Regions from separate parts of the Homo sapiens genome. Here region 1 is linked to region 2. Evidence: fine-mapped expression QTL. Tissue or cell type: whole blood. Region 2 holds a variant in brackets; the other region holds the start of a gene. All regions are shown on one strand. Distances are between the middles of the regions.

Region 1 (9,855 bases), 110 kb after region 2:
CTCTTTCTCACCTTCCTCACCCATTCACAAAATCTGGCCCTTTCCACCTCCTAAGTATCAATCTGCTCACCGCTCTGCCTCCCGACTGCCACCATCTTAGTAAATGCCACTATCACATCTCCTACTAAAATCCTCCTCCTCCTCTCTTCTACCCACCACGCTGGAGCTAGAGGAATCTTTTAAAAAAGCAAATCTCACATAGTTTAACCCCTTCAGTGACTTCCCATTGCCCTTAAGATCAAGTTCCAAATCCTGTCTCTACAACCTGATCCCTATGAATGCCTCCAGCCTCATCTCACATCCCCTCCTCATCCTCTTTTACTGAATCTCTGTTCTCTGTACCTGCAACATATTCCCTCCCTCAACACACAAACCCTCGAATGCCTCCCCCACTCCCCCTGAGCCTTTAGGCCACTGGAAGAGGTGAGAATTCCCTACCATACAGGTCCAGAGCTCCACCTACTTCTGTTTTGGTGATATTCACCAAAATGTGTCCTTACTTATTAAATGAATGTCTTCCTCATTAAATCCTAAAATCCACTGGGACACTGTGTTTTGCTTGCTCATTACTATATACCCAGTGTCCATCCTAACCCCTGGCACACACTAAGGACTCACTCAGTAAGTAAATTTGTGGAACAAATCAGTAAGATCTTTAAAGGACAGCCCCATGTTTTCACTCTTCTCCCTCACAAACACACACCCCATTAACAACAAAGTAGGCACTCAAATACTGACAAATGAATACATTAATAAATGAACAACAGAACAGCCTCTTCCCAGGCATACCTGCAACCACTTTCTTCCCTTTTTTTTTTTTTTTCCTAGGCGGAGTCTCGCTCTGTCGCCCAGGCTGGAGTGCAATGGCGCGATCTCGGCTCACTGCAAGCTCCGCCTTCCGGGTTCACGCCATTCTCCTGCCGCAGCCTCCCTCCTGCCGCAGCCTCCCGAGTAGCTGGGACTACAGGCGCCCGCCACCATGCCCGGCTAATTTTTTTGTAGTTTTAGTAAAGACAGGGTTTCACTGTGTTAGCCAGGATGGTCTCGATCTCCTGACCTCGTGATCTGCCCGCCTCGGCCTTCCAAAGTGCTGGGATTACAGGCGTGACCCACCGCGCCCGGCCTTTTTTTTTTTTTTTTTTTTTTTTTTTTTTTTTTTTTGAGATGAAGTCTTGCTCTGTCGCCCAGGCTGGAGTGCAGCGGTGCGATCCCGGCTCACTGCAACCTCCACCTCCTGGGTTCGAGCGATTCTCCTGCCTCAGCCTCCCGAGTAGCTGGAACTACAGGCGCACGCCACCATGCCAGGCTAATTTTTGTACTTTTAGTAGAAACGGGGTTTCGCCATGTTGGCCAGGATGGTCTCGATCTCTTGACCTCGTGATCTGCCCGCCTCAGCCTCCCAAAGTGCTGGGATTACAGGCGTGAACCACCACGCCCGACCCCACTTTCCTCCCTCTCTTTACCATTCCAGGTACCACCACTCAACTCCTCCTCCTAGTACTCCCTTCTCAAAATTTTCCCACTGCTTCCTGATAATGCCGGACTTCTAAAGCTAGAGAAAATCCTCTACAGTCTAGTCTATCCTACCCACTAGGTGAATAGGATAAGTAACGCCTAGGTGAATAGGTAAGTAAGGCCAACTCTGAAGGATTGCTTTGATCATGTAGAGAAGAACTTGAATCCCAACACAGGCTCAGAGGGGAAAGAGCATCTAGATAGATCAGTAATGTCTGCCCTATCGATTAGCATGTCTGTCATGGGCTAGTAATGAAAAGTCAGGAATTAGCATGTCTGTCATGGGCTAGTAATGAAAAGTCAGTATATCTGCCACCCAGTTACCAATTATGAACTAGGCAGATACTCCTCCAACTGGGATCTTTGGATCCTTAGAGACGCATTCTTCATAGACATGCTGGGAATCTAAGAGTTCTCTATGAGAAGTGTTCTAATTTTGTGATTTCTTCATGAAAATAACCCTTAAGATTTTTAAATAAGCAAACATTAGTAGCCAAATTCAGTGTTATCATTTACAGATGTGTTTATGAACACGGTGGAGCCAAGCAGTGTTACTTTACTGGTAACTGGCCAAGAAGAAAACACGGGCAGAATTAATATGTAAATGATTCCCTGTACCAGGTGAAGGGCAAAATGACACCATAATTTTGTAGTAATTAGAATAAAGTGGTGACTGAATTATCATATGGGCCACAGTTGATTAGGCTTGCTAAATTCAAGAGACCCTGAGCTATAGCAGGGTCTCTAAAGTAAGTAAACACTTTTTTTTTACTTGAAAGTAAGTAAACAGTGAGGATCTGTGAAAAATTTTTGCTTTTAAAAGAGAGTCTGTACATTACTCATGGCCTCACCTGTCAGGGATATTTTAAAGAAGATTCATGAATTGGGTGAAAGATTGGATCCGCCATAGGTATACAGACATATACAGTGCATGTATTTGTACATAAACAATGTACAGTATGTATTTAAAAACACATAACAACACAGGCCCCAACACTAATCCTCAGCTTTCACCCACCCATTCTTTTCAACGTGCTCTGAGCTTATCGAGTTCATCTCTGAATCTAACCAAGGTCACAGATGTAAATGCCAGTGGATGCCAGGCAGGTAAAAAATGAGTGAAGCTGATAGGGTATAAGAAAACATTTTCTTGAAATCTTCAGCTTCTTTCTCTCTATATATATATTTTTTCTCAATGTGAACAGAAATGTAAGTACAGGAAATATTTCACTTTTTCCTTAACTTCACTGAAAGAAAACACCATCATGAGTATAAATGGCAACTGTCACCTAATCTCCCCTTGGGGGACTGTGACAGAGAGTGGACGGTGGCAAACTAGAGTTCTTACTCCATTTGAAAGGGAGCTCAGCTCAGCTCCCTTTCATCATCACCCAGCTCCAGCAGGTCGGTAGCTGTCATGTAGGAATTCAGAATTAGTGTTACCAGGTCTCCCAATTTTTAACATATATAAATAATAATAAATAAATAATACGGAAATTTGGATTTTGTGTGGAAGTCTTCCAATTTAAAAATTCTGGCAACAGATTCAATAATTTTTCCCAAACACTGCGCTGGCCAAAAAATAATGTGTCTGCAACTCAGCTGGTTTGCAACTCTGCTCTCAGCTCTCCTTCAAACTGTCTCCCCCGCCTCAGTCCCCCAGAATCTGCAGATCCTCCCCCATCCTCCCGATGGTCCTCCAAGGTCAGCATTCAGGATCCTCAAGGCCAGCCCCACTCCTGCTGACCCCCCTTCTCTGCAACCCTGCGCGGACACTCCGGTTGGCTCTCCATCCTCCACTGCCTCACTCAGCGGTTACCTAACCTCTCCAGGTGTTTGTCCCGGCTCGCGCCTTACTCATTCCTCCAGGTCCCTCTCCAGTCACCAGCGACGCTTGTCAGTTCTCACTAAATATCCCGGGCCGAACAAAGTAAACTGGACCCGATAAAGCACCTCCAAGGAGTAAAAGGAGCAGAGCCTCACACTCGACACGGAATCCCGTCGTGGTTCCAACAACCCGAGCCACCCCAGGGCCGGGCCCTGGATGGACTTGTGCACAGAGCTCCCCCCACGAGCGCGTGGGACCCTGGGGTGCCCGCGGCCTTCCACGCCGGCAGAACAGCAGGGCTCGATGGTGGGGGATGTTCGGAGCGACCAGAAGCCGCGCCGCGCCACCCGGCCGGCCTCCGAGCTGTTTGCGATTTCCTCTCGGGGCTCCTCGTCCTCCTCCCCCTCAGGCCGCCCTCGCACGGCCGCCCGCCTCCACGGGCTTCACCCCTGCCCATCTTCCCGCACACGGGGCCGGGCGACCCTCCCACCTCAGCCCGGGATCGCGAACGGCTAGCGGGTGTCGCCAGGCGGGGAAACGCCGAGGCCGCGGCCGCTCCGGTCCCCCTCCCAGCCGCCGGTTCCCGGGCGCGGCCCCCGCCCGGCCCCGCCATCGCCTTGGCCCCGCAACCTCTCACCCGCCGCGCGGGTCCCGCCCGCGGCCGTGGCCGCCCCCGCCCGCGCCGGCCCGGGCCCTCACCCGCGACAGGGTGAGGTCGGTCATGAGCTGCTCGAAGGCCCGCGTCTCCTCGGCCTGTCTCTGCGTGTGCAGCGCGATCTTCTCACTGAACTTCCGCGGGTTGGCGCTGCCCGAGCCCGGCGAGGCGGCCATGGCGCGGACTCTGCGCGGGCAGAAGCGGGAGACGGCGGCCGTGGGGCCTGTACCTCGGCCCACCCGTCCGTCCACAGGCCGCCGGGGCCGCCGCCCGAAGCCAGTCGTCCGGCGCGACCCGGCAGAGGAGCCGCCGCGGCCCCGGAGCCAGCGAGCGGCCGGGAGCGCGCCGAGGTCCGCCCCCGTGCGCCCGGCCCCGCCCCACCCTCGGCGGGGCCCGCCCGGCCTCCAGTCTGCCCCGGCCCCACGCTCGCGGGCTGAGGGCTGCTCCCCGCTTCCCGGTCTGGCTCGGGACCCGCCGCCGGCGGCCACCTGGAGGGACCCCCGTCAGCCCGACAAAGTGGCCCCGGCGTACGGGGAACGCTGGGGTGCCACTCCACGGAGACTCTCCGACCCAGGGATGGCCTCTGCGTCTACGCGACGTGGAGAACACAGCCTGTGCCCGCATCCCCCCTCCCCCAGCCAAATTACGAAGATTTTCTTCTCCAGGTGGAACCTGGGCGACCGGACCTCGAGCAGGTCACCTCGGGCCCCCGCAGGGGGTGCGCCCATTTTGCCTGGGGCCTAACGTCTGCCCGCCAGCCCTGCCGCTCCAGGCCCCCGGCCTCCAGCCGCTGGTTTCCTGACCTCTCACACCCACCCCTCCCCGCTCCAGTCAACCAGAGCTGTATCTCGGCTTTAAAAACTGCCTCCTATTCTGCACAAACTACAAACACCATCCAGCCCTGCTGCAGCCTTGGCTCCATAGCCCCGGCCCCCTTTCCAGGTTCTTTCCAAGTCTCCCTACGGCCTCTCCACTCCTGTGGCAGCTTCAGCAGGTGCCAGCCCCACCTTGGGAAACCAGCGCTCAGCCTCAGCGAATTTCCCCTTCTTTTGGGGGAGTGAATGGATGTCTTTCTCTGTCGCCCGGTCTGGAGTGTAGTGGTGCGATCTCGACTCACCGCGGCCTTGACCTCCCGGGCTCAAAAGATCCTCCCACCTCAGCCTCCCGACCAGCTGGGACCACAGGCGGGGGTCACCACGCCCGGCTAGTTTGTAAATGTTTTTGTAGCAATGGGGGGCGGGGGTGGGTCTCGCTATTTTGCCCAGGCTGGTCTCGAACGCCTGGGCTCAAGCGATCTGCCCACCTCAGCCTCCCAAAGTGCTGGGATAACAGGCGTGGGCCACAGTGCCCGGGGAGTTTCCTCTTTGGAGTCCAGAAGCTACTCTCAGCATAAATGTTGATGTGCACAAAGATGTCCCGGGGAGCCCTGAGCGTGTGTCAGTGTTCTGTAAAGAGGGAAATATTAGAGGCCTACGGAAGAGTACGGAAAATAATATTAATACTACCCACGCCCCCCACTATCAAGATTAAACAGACATCAATACATTTTGCTGCATGTACTTGGGATTTATTAAAGACATACAAAATTAGTCATAACGACGGCCCCACTCTCATTTCTTCTTCCGCCCCACAGATAGTCACCGTGCTCAAGTTGGTACATATCATTCCAGTTTGTGTTTTTATACTTTTATTACATATGATGTAGAGATCCAGCAATGCTATATGGAATACCTAATTTTGTTTTTAAACTTTACAAAAATGACACCATACTGAATAATCATTTTGCATCTTTTTTCATTCTCCATTATGTTTTCGAGATATATTTGTGTCAATTCATTTATATGATAATATTCCATTATGTTTTTCACCTGTCTCTCAGACATAGCCTATAACTGGACTTTTTAGAAAATGTATTCTGAAAATATATCTCTGTTAGCTAGAATTTAGCTATTTTTATTAATTATAATTGGATTTTTTTTTCTGTTGTATTTTGTGTTATTTACCATGCTTTTTTTTTGTTGTTGGTTTGTTTTTGAGACGGAGTCTTGCTCTGTTACCCAGGCTGGAGTGCAGTGGCCTGATCTCAGCTCACTGCAAACTCTGCCTCTTGAGTTCAAGTGATTCTTGTGCCTCAGCCTCCCGAGTAACTGGGATTACAGGCTTGCGCCACCATGCCCGGCTAGTTTTTTTTTTTTTTTTTAAGACAGAGTCGCGCTCTGTCGCCCAGGCTGGAGTGCAGTGGTGCAATCTCGGCTCACTGCAATCTCTGCCTCCTGGGTTCAAGCTATTCTCCTGCCTCAGCCTCCTGAGTAGCTGGGATTACAGGTACACGCCACCACGCAGGCTAATTTTTTGTATTTTTTGTAGAGACGAGGTTTCACCATGTTGGTCAGGCTGGTCTCAAACTGCTGATCACAGGTGATCCACCTGTCTCGGCTTCCCAAAATGCTGGGATTGCAGGCGTGAGCCACCGCGCCTAGCATTTTTCTTTACATTTTATTTCTGCTTTTCTGTTACATTGTTTGGGTCAAGTTTCAGAGAACAGAACCATTCTAGATGGTTTAAGTACAAAAGAATATATTACAGGGTATAAAATGACTTCCAGACTTGTTTGGAGGGCTGAAGCAACCGACTCCAGGTTGAACTTTGAGGAATGACTTTGAGAGCTATGCTGCAATACTGAGCCACCAAAGGAGACACTGCCTCTTTTGAAATCAGGAAGCCATCTACTAAATTGGAAAGCTGTCTCTACACTTACCAGCTCTTGAACCATACAGGTATCATCATGATGAGAAGCCACTGCAGAAATATCAAGCATCGGCCAGGTGCAGTGGCTCACGCCTGTAATCCCAGCATTTTGGGAGGCCAAGGCGGGCAGATCGCCTGAGGTCAGGAGTTTGAGACCACCCTGACCAATATGGTGAAACCCTGTCTCTACTAAAAATACAAAAATTAGCCAGGTGTGGTGGCATGTGCCTGTAGTCCCAGCTACTCAGGAGGCTGAGGCAGGAGAATTGCTTAAATCCAGGAGGGGGAGGTTGCAGTCAGCCAAGATCACACCACTGCACTCCAGCCTGGGCCACAGAGGGAGACTCCGTCTCAAAAAAAAAAAAAAAAAAAAAAAAAAAGGCCAGGCTCAGTGGCTCACACCTGTAATCCCAGCACTTTGGGAGGCCGAGGTGTGGGTGGATCACCTGAGGTCAGGAGTTTGAGACCAGTCTGACCAACAAGGTGAAACCCGGTCTCTACTAAAAATATAAAAATTAGCAGGGCGTGGTGGCAGGCGCCTATAGTCCCAGCTACTCAGGAGGCTGAGACAGGAGAATTGCTTGAACCCAGGAGCAGAGGTTGCTGTGAGCCAAGATCACCCGACTGCACTCCAGCCTGGGCGACGAAGCGAGACTCCGTCTCAAAAAAAAAAAAAAAAAATCAAACACCTCCACCACAGCACTCCCCAGCATAAATAGCACACACAGACTTCACTTCACCTCCACCTTATACATCTCATGAGAGGAAATGATTGGAAAAACCAAAATTGTGTCCAAAATCCCTGCCACAAGGTCATCTAGGAAATGTAGATTCGACCTTTCAGCTTGTGCAATGTAGGGAGGACTGTAGAAAGATATTGAGATGAAAGGCTGGGTGCGGTGGTCGTGCCTGTAATCCCAGCACTTTGGGAGGCCAAGGCGGGCAGATCATGAGGTCAGGAGATCGAGACCATCCTGGCTAACACGGTGAAACCCCGTCTCTACTAAAAATACAAAAAAAATTAGCGGGGCGTGGTGGTGGCGGGCACCTGTAGTCCCAGCTACTCGGGAGGCAGAGGCAGGAGAATGGCGTGAGCCCGAGAGGCGGAGCTTGCAGTGAGCCGAGATCGCGCCACTGCACTCCAGCCTGGGTGACAGAGGGAGACTCCGTCTCACAAAAACAAATATATATATATATATATAGAGATGAGATGAGTATTAAGCTAAATCTACCATTATCTGTCCACCAATTCACCAGCATAGGCACCTGTCATAGCTGCACTCTGGTTCCATGTTTCTGGAATCTGATTTGGAGTATATTCATTCTACTTCTGTTCTTATTTGATTAACTTAATCATATTACATTTGGTTTTTTTTTTTTAGAGACAGGGTCTCACTGTGTTGCCCAGGCTGGACCTGAACTCGTGGGCTCAAGCCATCCTCCTGCCTCAGTTTCCTGAGAAGCTGGGATAATTTTCTAATCAAAAAATGTGAATTATTTAAGAAGTGAAATTTATAGGCTTACAATCGTAAAAAGATTTCTCAAGTCCTTTTTTTTTTTTTTTTTTTTTTTTTGAGACAGGGTCTCTTGCTCTGTTACCCAGGCTGGAGTGCAGTGAATGGAAAGATCAGGGCTCACTGCAGCCTCAGACACTCTCACCTCAGCGCCTCCTCAGTAGCTGGGACTACAGGTGCGTGGCACCATCCCTGGCTTGTTGTTTTTTTTTTTTAATTTTAGTAGAGACAAGGTCTTCCTATGTTGCTCAGGCTAGTCTTGAATTCCTGGGCTCAAGTGATCCCCCAAACTCAGCCTCCCAAAGTGCTGGGATTACAGGGATGAGCCACCATACATGGCCCCCAAGTCCTACTTTAAATGAAGTTAATCCTGCTGTTTTATGATATTTTAAAATTTTAGATAGTTAACTGTTCATTTTCTACCATAGAAAATGATGATTTGGCCATTTTATGCCCCAACAAAAATATAATTTTCCCTGACCTCATTCTTTCAATGTAGTTATGTGATCATTCTTGGTAAATCAATATTAAGTGGTTTTTAAATTATTATTGTTATTATTTTGAGACAGGGTCTCACTCTGTCACCCAGGCTGTAGTACAGTGGCATGATCTTGGCTCACTGCAGCTCCGACCTTCTGGGCTCAAGCAATCCTCCCACCTCAGCCTCCTAAGTAGCTGGGACTACAGGCACGCACCACCACACCTGGCTAAGTTTCTTCAGTTTTTGTAGTGATGAAGTCTTACCATGTTGCCCAGGCTGGTCTCGAACCCCTGGGCTCAAGGGATCCTCCCGCCTCGGCCTCCCAAAGTGCTGGGATTACAGGTATGAGCCACTGTGCTTGGCAATATTAAGCGTTCACATAGTGTAGCATAGTTCTATTTTGGTACAAATTTCTTTTTGGAGTTAAAAATTGCCTCTGTTATTGATTTGCTTAGATTTCTCTCAAGCCATTATTCATCCTTTCCCAAACTCCGACAGAGCTATGAAACATATGACTGAATCTATGAATGACTGGTTTTGGGGGAAGCTTCTTTTCTGGAGCGCTGTGCCCTCTGGCTGCATCCTGGGCTGTTCCCCAGCCTGCAGCACTGCTGTGGTGCAGTCCCCCTCACCATCACCCCAAGCTTCCCTCCGCCTCCTGTGTTCTCACCTCCGCTTCCCGGATCCCAGGTTGTCGTCTTGCCATGTGTACACCTTCACTTTGGTGGAGTACATTCTCCAATAGTTTCCTGGAGAGAAAAAGGGTACGTGAAAGATAAAATCTCTGAGACTGTGTGTGAAGATGGTTTTATTTTACCCTCCTGTTTGATTATTAGCTTGGCTAAGAGTAGGGCTTCTCTGGAAATGCTTTTCATTTAGATCTTTGAATGCATTGGGTCACTGTTTTCTCACTTTCAGTGTTGCTACTGAGAAGGCCACTCACATTCGGTTTCCTTTTCCTTTGTAGGTGACCTGTTTTTTTGTTTGTTTGTTTTTGGTTTTTTTTTTTTTGGTTTATTGTTTTTTGTTTTTGAGATGGAGTCTTGCTCTGTCACCTAGGCTGGAGTGCAGTGGCGCAATCTCAGCTCACTGCAACCTCTGCCTCTTGGGTTCA
Region 2 (9,596 bases):
TTTTTTTTTTTTTGGAGACTGTTGCCCAGGCTGGAGTACAGTGGCACAATCTCGGCTCACTGCAAGCTCCACCTCCTGGGTTGGTGCCATTCTGCCTCAGCCTCCCGAGTAGCTGAGACCACAGGCGCCCGCCGCCATGCCCAGCTAATTTTTTTTGTATTTTTTAGTAGAGACGGGGTTTCGCTGTGTTAGCCAGAATGGTCTCGATCTCCTGACCTGATGATCCGCCCACCTCGGCCTCCCAAAGTGCTGGGATTACAGGCGTGAGCCACCGCACTGGGCCAGATGAAATCTTTCAGAAAAGGCTTTGACTACCAGGCCCACCGCCCTGTGTCACGGTCTCTGAGGCTGGACACCTGCATCTCAAAAAGTCAAGTCGACCCAGGGAACGTTAACTTTTTGCTTTATATAATATTATGTTGTTTAAACTCTCTTATGAAGGTTCCTGAACACACAACAACATAAAAGCAGTAAAGAAGCTGAGGGATAGCTCGCTCACCTGGCAGGATGGTGTTCGGGAGACTCCCGCAGTTGGAATACGGGCTTGGTCTCAAATGAAAAGAGTCCTGCAGTTCTCGGGAACCTTGTTGCACCAGAGGCACCTGGAAGCATCGAAGGTCATGTGAGGAAGGCCACACCTCTGTTTCCAAGGAGGAAGTGAGTATTGCAATGTGCTCCCAGAGCAAAACCTGACTTGCAAACTAATCCATATTCCCTTCTTTCCAGGATCCCAGAGTGCTTTGCTCTTATGGTAATGCATGCACAATATTCTTGTCAGGCAGGCAGACGCTGGGGTGGAGGAGGGGTCCCTGAGGTCCACAGCGTGGTGACTTTTCCCCAGCCCACTACACCATCCCAAGAGACACCAATGCTCATGGTTTCTGTGGCCCCTCAGACATCTGTCCTCAGCCTCACCAAGGCCTTTGCAAACTGCCTTCTGTGGGAACCCTTCAAAGGCTCTGTCTATAACCAAGGAAGTATGGACTCTTCTTCCTTGGTTTCTTTCTTCTTTTTTTTTTTAAAGATAGGGTCTCTGTTGCCCAGGCTGGAGTGCAATGGCGCCATCTCGGCTCACTGAAACCTCCAGCTCCCAGGCTCAAGCAATCCGTCCACCTTAGCCTCCCAAATAGCTGGGACCACATGCCACCATGCCTGGCTAATTTTTGTATTTTTTTTAGAGACAGGGTCTTGCTGTATTTTACCCAGGCTGGTCTCAAACTCCTGAGTTCAAGTAAGCCACTGGCCTTGGCCTCCCAAAGTGCTGGGATTATGGGTGTGAGCCACTGCACCTGGCCTCTTCCCTGGTTTCTAGAAAACTGAGAAAGGGGAAGGCTTTCCTTTTCACACTCAGAAGGAGGAAACTCAGGCAAGCTCCTCCCTATGAGAAAGCCTCTATGAGGACTGGTTATAACCAGTGCCAATTTTAGGTTCCTTTCCTGAAATTAATTTTCTAAGCCATTTTAAAAAAAGTCTCAAAAGAAGTGTCTATCATTTTTCAGGGAGACGGTGATTCCCACCTAGACTAAAATGGCTCTTTGGGAAACAGGGAGGCAAGGAGGATTGGTTCTTGCCACAAAGCTTCATCTGTGGCCTGCTTAGGAAACAGCTATCTTAATTTATTTTATTATTATTATTTTATTTACTTATTTTGAGACAGAGTCTTGCTTTGTTGTCCAGACTGAAGTGCAGTGGTGCGATCTCAGCTCACTGCAAGCTCCGCCTCCCGGCTTCACGCCATTCTCCTGCCTCAGCCTCCCGAGTAGCTGGGACTACAGGTGCCTGCCACCACGCCCAGCTAATTTTTTTGTATTTTTTAGTAGAGACAAGGTTTCACCGTGTTAGCCAGGATGGTCTCGATCTCCTGACCTCATGATCCGCCCGCCTCGGCCTCCCAAACTGCTGGGATTACAGGCGTGAGCCACTATGCCCAGCTATTTTATTAAGTTCTTGGCTGGGCACAGTGGCTCGCACCTGTAATCCCAGCACTTTGGGAGGCCAAGGCGGGTGGATCACTTGAGGTCCGGAGTTCAAGATTAGCCTGGTCAACAAAGTGAAACCCCATCTCTACTAAAAATATAAAATTTAGCCAGGTGTAGGGGTACATGCCTGTAACCCCAATTACTCAGGAGTCTGAGACATGAGAATCACTTGAACCCAGGAGGTGGAGGTTGCAGTAAGCCGAGATCACGCCACTGCACTCCAGCCTAGGCGACAGATTAAGATTCTGTCTCAAAAAAAAAAAAAAAAAAAAGTTCTGGAACCTGTTCAACCCTTCTTCCACTCCTTAATCCATCGGAGGGCCCAGTCCATACTTATTGAATACTATTGAATACTATAAAATCTAGAATATTAAAAATAGTCAATGTTAGGAAAAAACTAAACTGTAAAAGAAAGTGGCCGAGTTGAAAATACCTTACGGAACGCACTCCCCTCACTCCCCAGGACTGAGCTCTCCCCAGGAGGCCCCACGCTGTGCTGGGTGCACCAGCCTGGGTGCAGGCCAAATGCGGCGCCACCTTCTGACTCTGCGGTGGGAGCAGGCGCCACTCTCCCTATGCCTCAGTTTCAACATGAGGGCGCTGAGGAGGCAGGTGCTGTGTCCCTTCCAGTGTTCATGATTTTACAGTTCTACAACGAGAGTGTCATCAAAAGTCTCCTGCCGATTGTTCCAATAGTTCCTCTGCTGAAGCCTGATACTAAATAAGGCAGCCAGAGAAAGCATTTTAGGGCCAAAGAAGATGAAAGGCTCTTCTAGCCACAGAACACAACCAGAACCAGGAAAGTGGCATGTCTGGTCTGCTCAGTTCTGAATTCTACAGAATGAACAACCTAAATGGTACAGTTTATGCACCAAGGGAGGAGAAGGCAGGGGCGATCACCCACCTGTTGAGGAAAGGCAGGGCCTGGCCTCATGGACTGCTGGTCAAAACCCACATCTGGGAAGAAGTTGGTCAAAGATGAGCCCTTCAGGGAATAAGGAGATGATCATTTAGCTTGGAACTCAGAGCAAAACAAGCATTCCCTCTGCACCAACGCTCCTGCCAGAACTCACCTGGGCCGGGAGAAGCTGAAAGTCTGACTGTGGCAGTGAGGAGGCTGCCTGGGGCTGCTGGGCAGGGGCCTCAGGGGCGCGGGGCTGCTGCAGGAGGGGCTGGGTGAGCTCCTGGGGTGCAGGGTAAGGGGGTGGCGGCGACACCTGGGCTTGAGCTTCTGTGGGCAGAAAGGAAAGTTGGCTTCGGTCTGAGGACACCATCTGCAAAACAAACACACAAAGCCACTAATGAGCTTCTGCGTTTCTGGCGTTAAGTCCTTTAGGATTAGGAAATGTCAGAGTGAGAGGAAGCCTGAGATTTTCCTCACCGC[G/A]GTGTTCTGTGCAATGCTGTGAGAAGCCCGTTTCTCATCCTTCAAAGTATATCTCAAATTTTACTTCCCCACAAAGCATGTTCCATTCAATGACAAGTTCTATTGTCTTAAAAGAACTAAACAAGAAAACAGCCAATTTAACCAATTTCCTTTCAGTTTTCTCCGTGAAAATCATGTTTTGTTTTGTTTTATAGCCGTGTCTTCTGGTTAAAAGTGGAAAATTGAAAAAGGCCCTTAGCTCTGTCATCCCCAAATCCTGTTAAAACAAGACACTACAACATTAACAAGCAATAAGCATTAATAAAAAACACTAAACAACAGCACAGAACACTAAATGATAACAAACAACACGAGGACAAAGATAACGGGAGAGAAGAAAATGGCAACAAAAGCTGGAAAATGAGCAGCAGATGGCCCGGTGGCAGCTGGCTTAGCAGAGCTGAGAAAACCCGATGCTAGGCTGGCAGTGAGGAAAAACCAGGAGGCAATCTCACTGACAGCACTCAGTCCCCACAGGGCTCTGGGACTGGGGACAGCAGGGAGCAGGCGGTGAAGCTAAAACCAGGAGATTCTGGTCACAGTTTGTGTAAGGGGCAGTTGGACCTGCAGAGCCCTTGCCTTGAGTGTGCTTCTGCGCACTGGCCCCCACCATCCTGCCACCTGCCAGGAGACTGGAAGGTTCTACTTTCGAGATAATAAAACTAAGGGTCTCTGGATATTAGAAGGTGAGGCACTTTACTGAAAACACAGGGTTTAGAAGAAATTTCTTTTTCTTTAATATTTTATTTTTTTAAGTTCTAGGGTACATGTGCACAACATGCAGGTTTGTTACATATGTATACACGTGCCATGTTGGTGTGCTACACCCATTAACTCGTCATTTACGTTAGGTATATCTCCCAATGCTATCCCTCCCCCTTCCCCGCATCCCACAACAGGCCCCGGTGTGTGATGTTCCCCTTCCTGTGTCCATGTGTTCTCATTGTTCAATTCCCACCTATGAGTGAGAATATGTGGTGTTTGGTTTTTTGTCCTTGCGACAGTTTGCTGAGAATGATGGTTTCCAGCTTCATCCATGTCCCTACAAAGGACATGAACTCATCATTTTTTATGGCTGCATAGTATTCCATGGTGTATATGTGCCACATTTTCTTAATCCAGTCTATCGTTGTTGGACATCTGGCTTGGTTCCAAGTCTTTGCTATTGTGAATAGTGCTGCAATAAACATATGTGTGCATGTGTTTTTATAGCAGCATGATTTATAATCCTTTGGGTATATACCCAGTAATGGGATGGCTGGGTCAAATGGTATTTCTAGTTCAAGATCCCTAAGGAATCGCCACACTGACTTCCACAATGGTTGAACTAGTTTACAGTCCCACCAACAGTGTAAAAGTGTTCCTATTTCTCCACATCCTCTCCAGCACCTGTTGTTTCCTGACTTTTTAATGATTGCCATTCTAACTGGTGTGAGATGGTACCTCATTGTGGTTTTGATTTGCATTTCTCTGATGGCCAGTGATGATGAGCATTTTTTCATGTGTCTTTTAGCTGCATAAATGTCTTCTTTTGAAGAGTGTCTGTTCATATCCTTCGCCCACTTTTTGATGGGGTTGTTTGTTTTTTTCTTGTAAATTTGAGTTCTTTGTAGATTCTGGATATTAGCCCTTTGTCAGATGAGTAGATTGCAAAAATTTTCTCCCATTCTGTAGTTTGCCTGTTCACTCTGATGGTAGTTTCTTTTGCTGTGCAGAAGCTCTTTAGTTTAATTAGATCCCATTTGTTAATTTTGGCTTTTGTTGCCATTGCTTTTGGTGTTTTAGACATGAAGTCCTTGCCCATGCCTATGTCCTGAATGGTATTGCCTAGGTTTTCTTCTAGGGTTTTTATGGTTTTAGGTCTAACATTTAAGTCTTTAATCCATCTTGAATTAATTTTTGTATAAGGTGTAAGGAAGGGATCCAGTTTCAGCTTTCTACGTATGGCTAGCCAGTTTTCCCAGCACCATTTATTAAATAGGGAATCCTTTCCCCATTTCTTGTTTTTGTCAGGTTTGTCAAAGATCAGATGGTTGTAGATATGTGGCATTATATCTGAGGGCTCTGTTCTGTTCCATTGGTCTATATCTCTGTTTTGGTACCAGTACCATGCTGTTTTGGTTACTGTAGCCTTGTAGTATAGTTTGAAGTCAGGTAGCATGATGCCTCCAGCTTTGTTCTTTTGGCTTAGGATTGACTTGGCAATGTGGGCTCTTTTTCGGTTCCATATGAACTTTAAAGTAGTTTTTTCCAATTCTGTGAAGAAAGTCATTGGTAGCTTGATGGGGATGGCATTGAATCTATAAATTACCTTGGGCAGTATGGCCATTTTCACAATATTGATTCTTCCTACCCATGAGCATGGAATGTTCTTCCATTTGTTTGTATCCTCTTTTATTTCATTGAGCAGTGGTTTGTAGTTCTCCTTGAAGAGGTCCTTCACATCCCTTATAAGTTGGATTCCTAGGTATTTTATTCTTTAGAAGAAATTTCACGATCGAATCTTAAGATCTCCACCTTTCTTTCCCAACCCGGCTCACAGGATGCCGGAATCCTGATATGCCGAGGTGCGACATTGGAAGAGTGTCCTTTAGGGAACCTGACAAGGCCTGAAGAGAGAAAATCTTTTTTTCTGGAGACAGAGTTTTTCTGGAGACAGAGTCTTGCTCTGTCACCCAAGCTGGAGTGCAGTGGCATGACCTTGGCTCACTGCAACCTCCACCTCCTGGGTTCAAGCAATTCTCCTGCCTCAGTCTCCCGAGTAGCTGAGATTACAGGAGCATGCTAACACGCCTGGCTAATTTTTGTATTTTTAGTAGAGACGGGGTTTCACCATGTTGGCCAGGCTGGTCTCGAACTCCTGACCTCAGGTGATCCACCCGCCTCGGCCTCCCAAAGTGCTGAGATTACAGGTGTGAGCCACCACGCCTGGCCAGAGAAGAATGTAAAACTTATGACACCAGGAGTTTCCCAAGGAAATGACCAAGCTAGATCATTCTACAATGAAGACCACACTCAGCAGGCCTGCCCACATACACAGAGCTGCCAGCCAGCTTCTCAGTGTCCTTTTTTTTTTCTCATTTACATATTTTTATTTGGAAATGTTTATATCAGTACAAGGAAACAATTTTGGAGACACTGGATGTCATTAGTTATCATTAGTTTATTATAAGAAATATGGAAATTATTTACATGATGAAAGATTTCAGAACTTCAGTGGAATGGGCAGCTTCACACTGATGCCATTTCAGTAGTGACTTATTTCAGTCTATGTACTTTCCAAGAATGTCACCATCTCTAAATAGGAAATAATCCTTGTCATCTAGAACTACTTTGGTGCCTCCATATTCTGGGAGAAGAACTTTATCTCCAACTTTCACGCTAACTGGTTGAATCTCTCCAGCCTTACCTTTAGAACCCGATCCAACAGTGACTACTGTTGCTTGCAATACTTTTCCTTGAGATTTTTCTGGAAGCAAAATGCCTCCTTTGGTTACAGTTTTAGCAGCGCTCCTTCCAACCAATACTCAGTCAGAGAGTGGAAAAAACTTTCTACACGCTTGTCCTGCCATGACTCCCTTCGCCTCAGTCTCATACTCCGCTCTAGTGTAGAGCCGCAAGGAGACAGCCCCTCAGTGTCCTGTTCTTAAACATGAGCAGAGCACTGAGGATCACCAGGCCCTGAGGAAACCATCTGCCGTGAAAGTCAGAGGCCAGAGCAGACACACACAATCTTGGAAAGATGTGTGCAGGAAGAAGTAGTTGTGAAAAACCAAAATCAGCATGACAATATTTAGGCTACTAAGAAAATCCTTATCTATTAGAGATACATATTAAAATATCTGCAATTTTTAAAAGCAGGGTATGGATGAAACAAGATAACAAGGCTGGCGTGCTGGCTCACGCCTGTAATCTCAGACTTTGGGAGGCTGAGGTGGGTGGATCACCTGAGGTCAGGAGTTTGAAACCAGCCTGGCCAACATGGTGAAATCCCGTCTCTACTAAAAATTACAAAAATTAGCCAGGTGTGGTGGTGTGCACCTGTAGTCCCAGCTATTCGGGAGGCTGAGGCCAGGAGAATGGTTTGAACCTGGATGGCGGAGGTTACAATGAGCCGAGATCACACCACTGCACTCCAGCCTGGGCAACAGAGCAAGACCCTGTCTCAAAAAAAAAAAATTAATTGTTGAGGGTAAATGATGGGTATAGGAGGACTTATTGTATTATGTTCTCTACTTTTATGCAATTTAGGAAAATTCTATTATAGAAAATAAAGATAAATTCGAAAAAAAAAGACCACTAAAAACCTGAGAGATAAAAGATGATATTGCATCTGTGGAATAAGTATGATGCTATTAAAAAAGAACACTCAGAGAACAAAAAAGAACTCATAGCAATTTAAAAATGAGAGCAGAAATGGAAAACTCAACAGAAGTGTTGGAAGATAAAGCTGAGACAATCTTCCAGAAAGCAAAGCAAAACAAACAAACAAGGAAGCAACCACAGAGAAGCAAAAGAGGAGAGAGAGAAGATAAGGATAATAGAGGAAAAGTCCAGGATAGTCAACATTCGTAGAGTTCCAGAGAGAAAGAACAGAGAAAACTGAAGGGAAGAAATCATTGAAGAAATAAAGAACATTTCCCAGAAATGAAGGCTGTGAGTTTCCAGATTGAAGGAACCCACCAAATATGCAGACTCACGCCAAGCCACATCATCTTGAAGTTTCAGAACACTGGGGACAAAAAGATCTCACAAGCCTGGGGTGGAGCAGGGGGATTCCATGCAAAGTGTTAAGAGTCCGAATGGCACTGGATTTCTCAATGCAACTTACAAATGAATAGGCAATAGATGCCAAGGGAAAATTATTTCAAATTTAGAATTCTATATTCAGCCAAATAATAATTAAATGGCAGATCAAATAAAGACATTTTAAGTCATACAAAGTCACAGGCACTCTTTGCTATAGAGCTACTAGAGAATTTAGTTTTGAATGTGTCGAGAGGAGATCTGCCCAACTCCAAGAGTTGGGGACTGAATTAGTCATACACATAGATACATATAGATAACCAGGCTAATAAAAAAAGTCAGACATTTATTAACTCCCAAGAGGAAAAAAAATTCTCATTTTCTTGTTTCATAGTATACTATATGTCAACTCTGACTACATTGTAACTATAAAAACACTAAATATTGAGTATTGCTCTAACCAAAATTATAATAAATGAGGAGGGTGGGTAGGAAATTGTGTGTGCACATGTGCGCACATATGTGTGTGGTGGAGTCTGTGGGAGAGTGGAAAGAGAATTAAATTCTAATCTTCATTGGTAGGATGTCATTAGATAATGCCTAACACCAAAAATGTAGAACAAAAAAAGCATAAAACAACATGGTTAGGCTGGGTGAGGTGGCTCATGCCTGTAATCCAGCACTTTGGGACGCCGAGGCGGGCAGACTGCCTGAGGTCAGGAGTTCGAAACCAGCCTGGCTAACATGGTAAAACCCTGTATCTACTAAAAATACAAAAAGTAGCCAGGCGTCGTGGCACATGCCTGTAGTCCCAGCTACTTAGGAAGCTGAGGCAGGAAAATCGCTTGAACCTGGGAGGTGGAGGTTTCAGTGAGTTGAGATCGCACCACTACACCCCAGCCTGGGTGACAGAGCAAGACTCTGTCTCAAAATAATAATAACATGGTTATACCAAAGAGATTAGTTAAAATGGTTGACAGCCATCTCTAGGCAGTGAGGAATATGCCTAACGAGAGGGAAAGACAGCTGTTTTTCTATAACAAGCCCTTTAGAACTATTTTACTTTTTAAACTATGTGCATGAATAACATTCACTTTTTAAAATTTCCTTTTTTTAAGAGATAGATAGGGTGTCACTATGTTGCCAAGGCTGGTCTTGAACTCCGGGCCTTAAGCAATCCTCCAGTCTCTGCCTCCTGAGTAGCTGGGATTACAGTCAGAACAACTGTGTCCAGCAACATTCATTTAAAAAAAATCTAAATATTAAACAAATTAAAAACACATCTGAAAGGGGACACTCTGGCCATACAGTCTCCTTAAAATGTAGCTAAAAAGCAAGAATACTTTTAGATCTTATAAAATAATCTTGCAAAATAAAATTAAAGGTAATTCAATAACATAAGAACCACGAAAACAATAATTATGGACTAGCCTGGGCAATATGGTGAA

Evidence for each region. PIP is the estimated chance that this variant, and not a neighbour inherited with it, causes the effect.
Region 1: it holds the start of CRTC3, and the variant in region 2 is fine-mapped to the expression of CRTC3 in whole blood (TOPMed, PIP 0.98).

Annotation. Positions count from the first base shown.
Region 1 is chr15:90,524,391-90,534,245 of GRCh38, reverse strand. It overlaps CRTC3 (CREB regulated transcription coactivator 3), which reads right to left and starts at 4,323. Exons shown (of 15, transcript NM_022769.5): 1 at 4,043-4,323. The coding sequence starts at 4,174. RefSeq lists an enhancer at 3,220-3,379 and silencers at 3,770-3,949, 3,970-4,719, 4,820-4,869.
Region 2 is chr15:90,632,103-90,641,698 of GRCh38, reverse strand. CRTC3 (CREB regulated transcription coactivator 3) reads right to left here. Exons shown (of 15, transcript NM_022769.5): 12 at 3,053-3,253; 13 at 2,884-2,964; 14 at 500-602. CRTC3-AS1 (CRTC3 antisense RNA 1) reads left to right here. Exons shown (of 4, transcript NR_120372.1): 3 at 442-657. It also overlaps the pseudogene HSPE1P3. Among named protein-coding and RNA genes, the nearest start is that of LINC01585, 23 kb to the left of the region's middle. RefSeq lists an enhancer at 1-975. The variant G/A (reference allele first, on the strand shown) is at 3,364.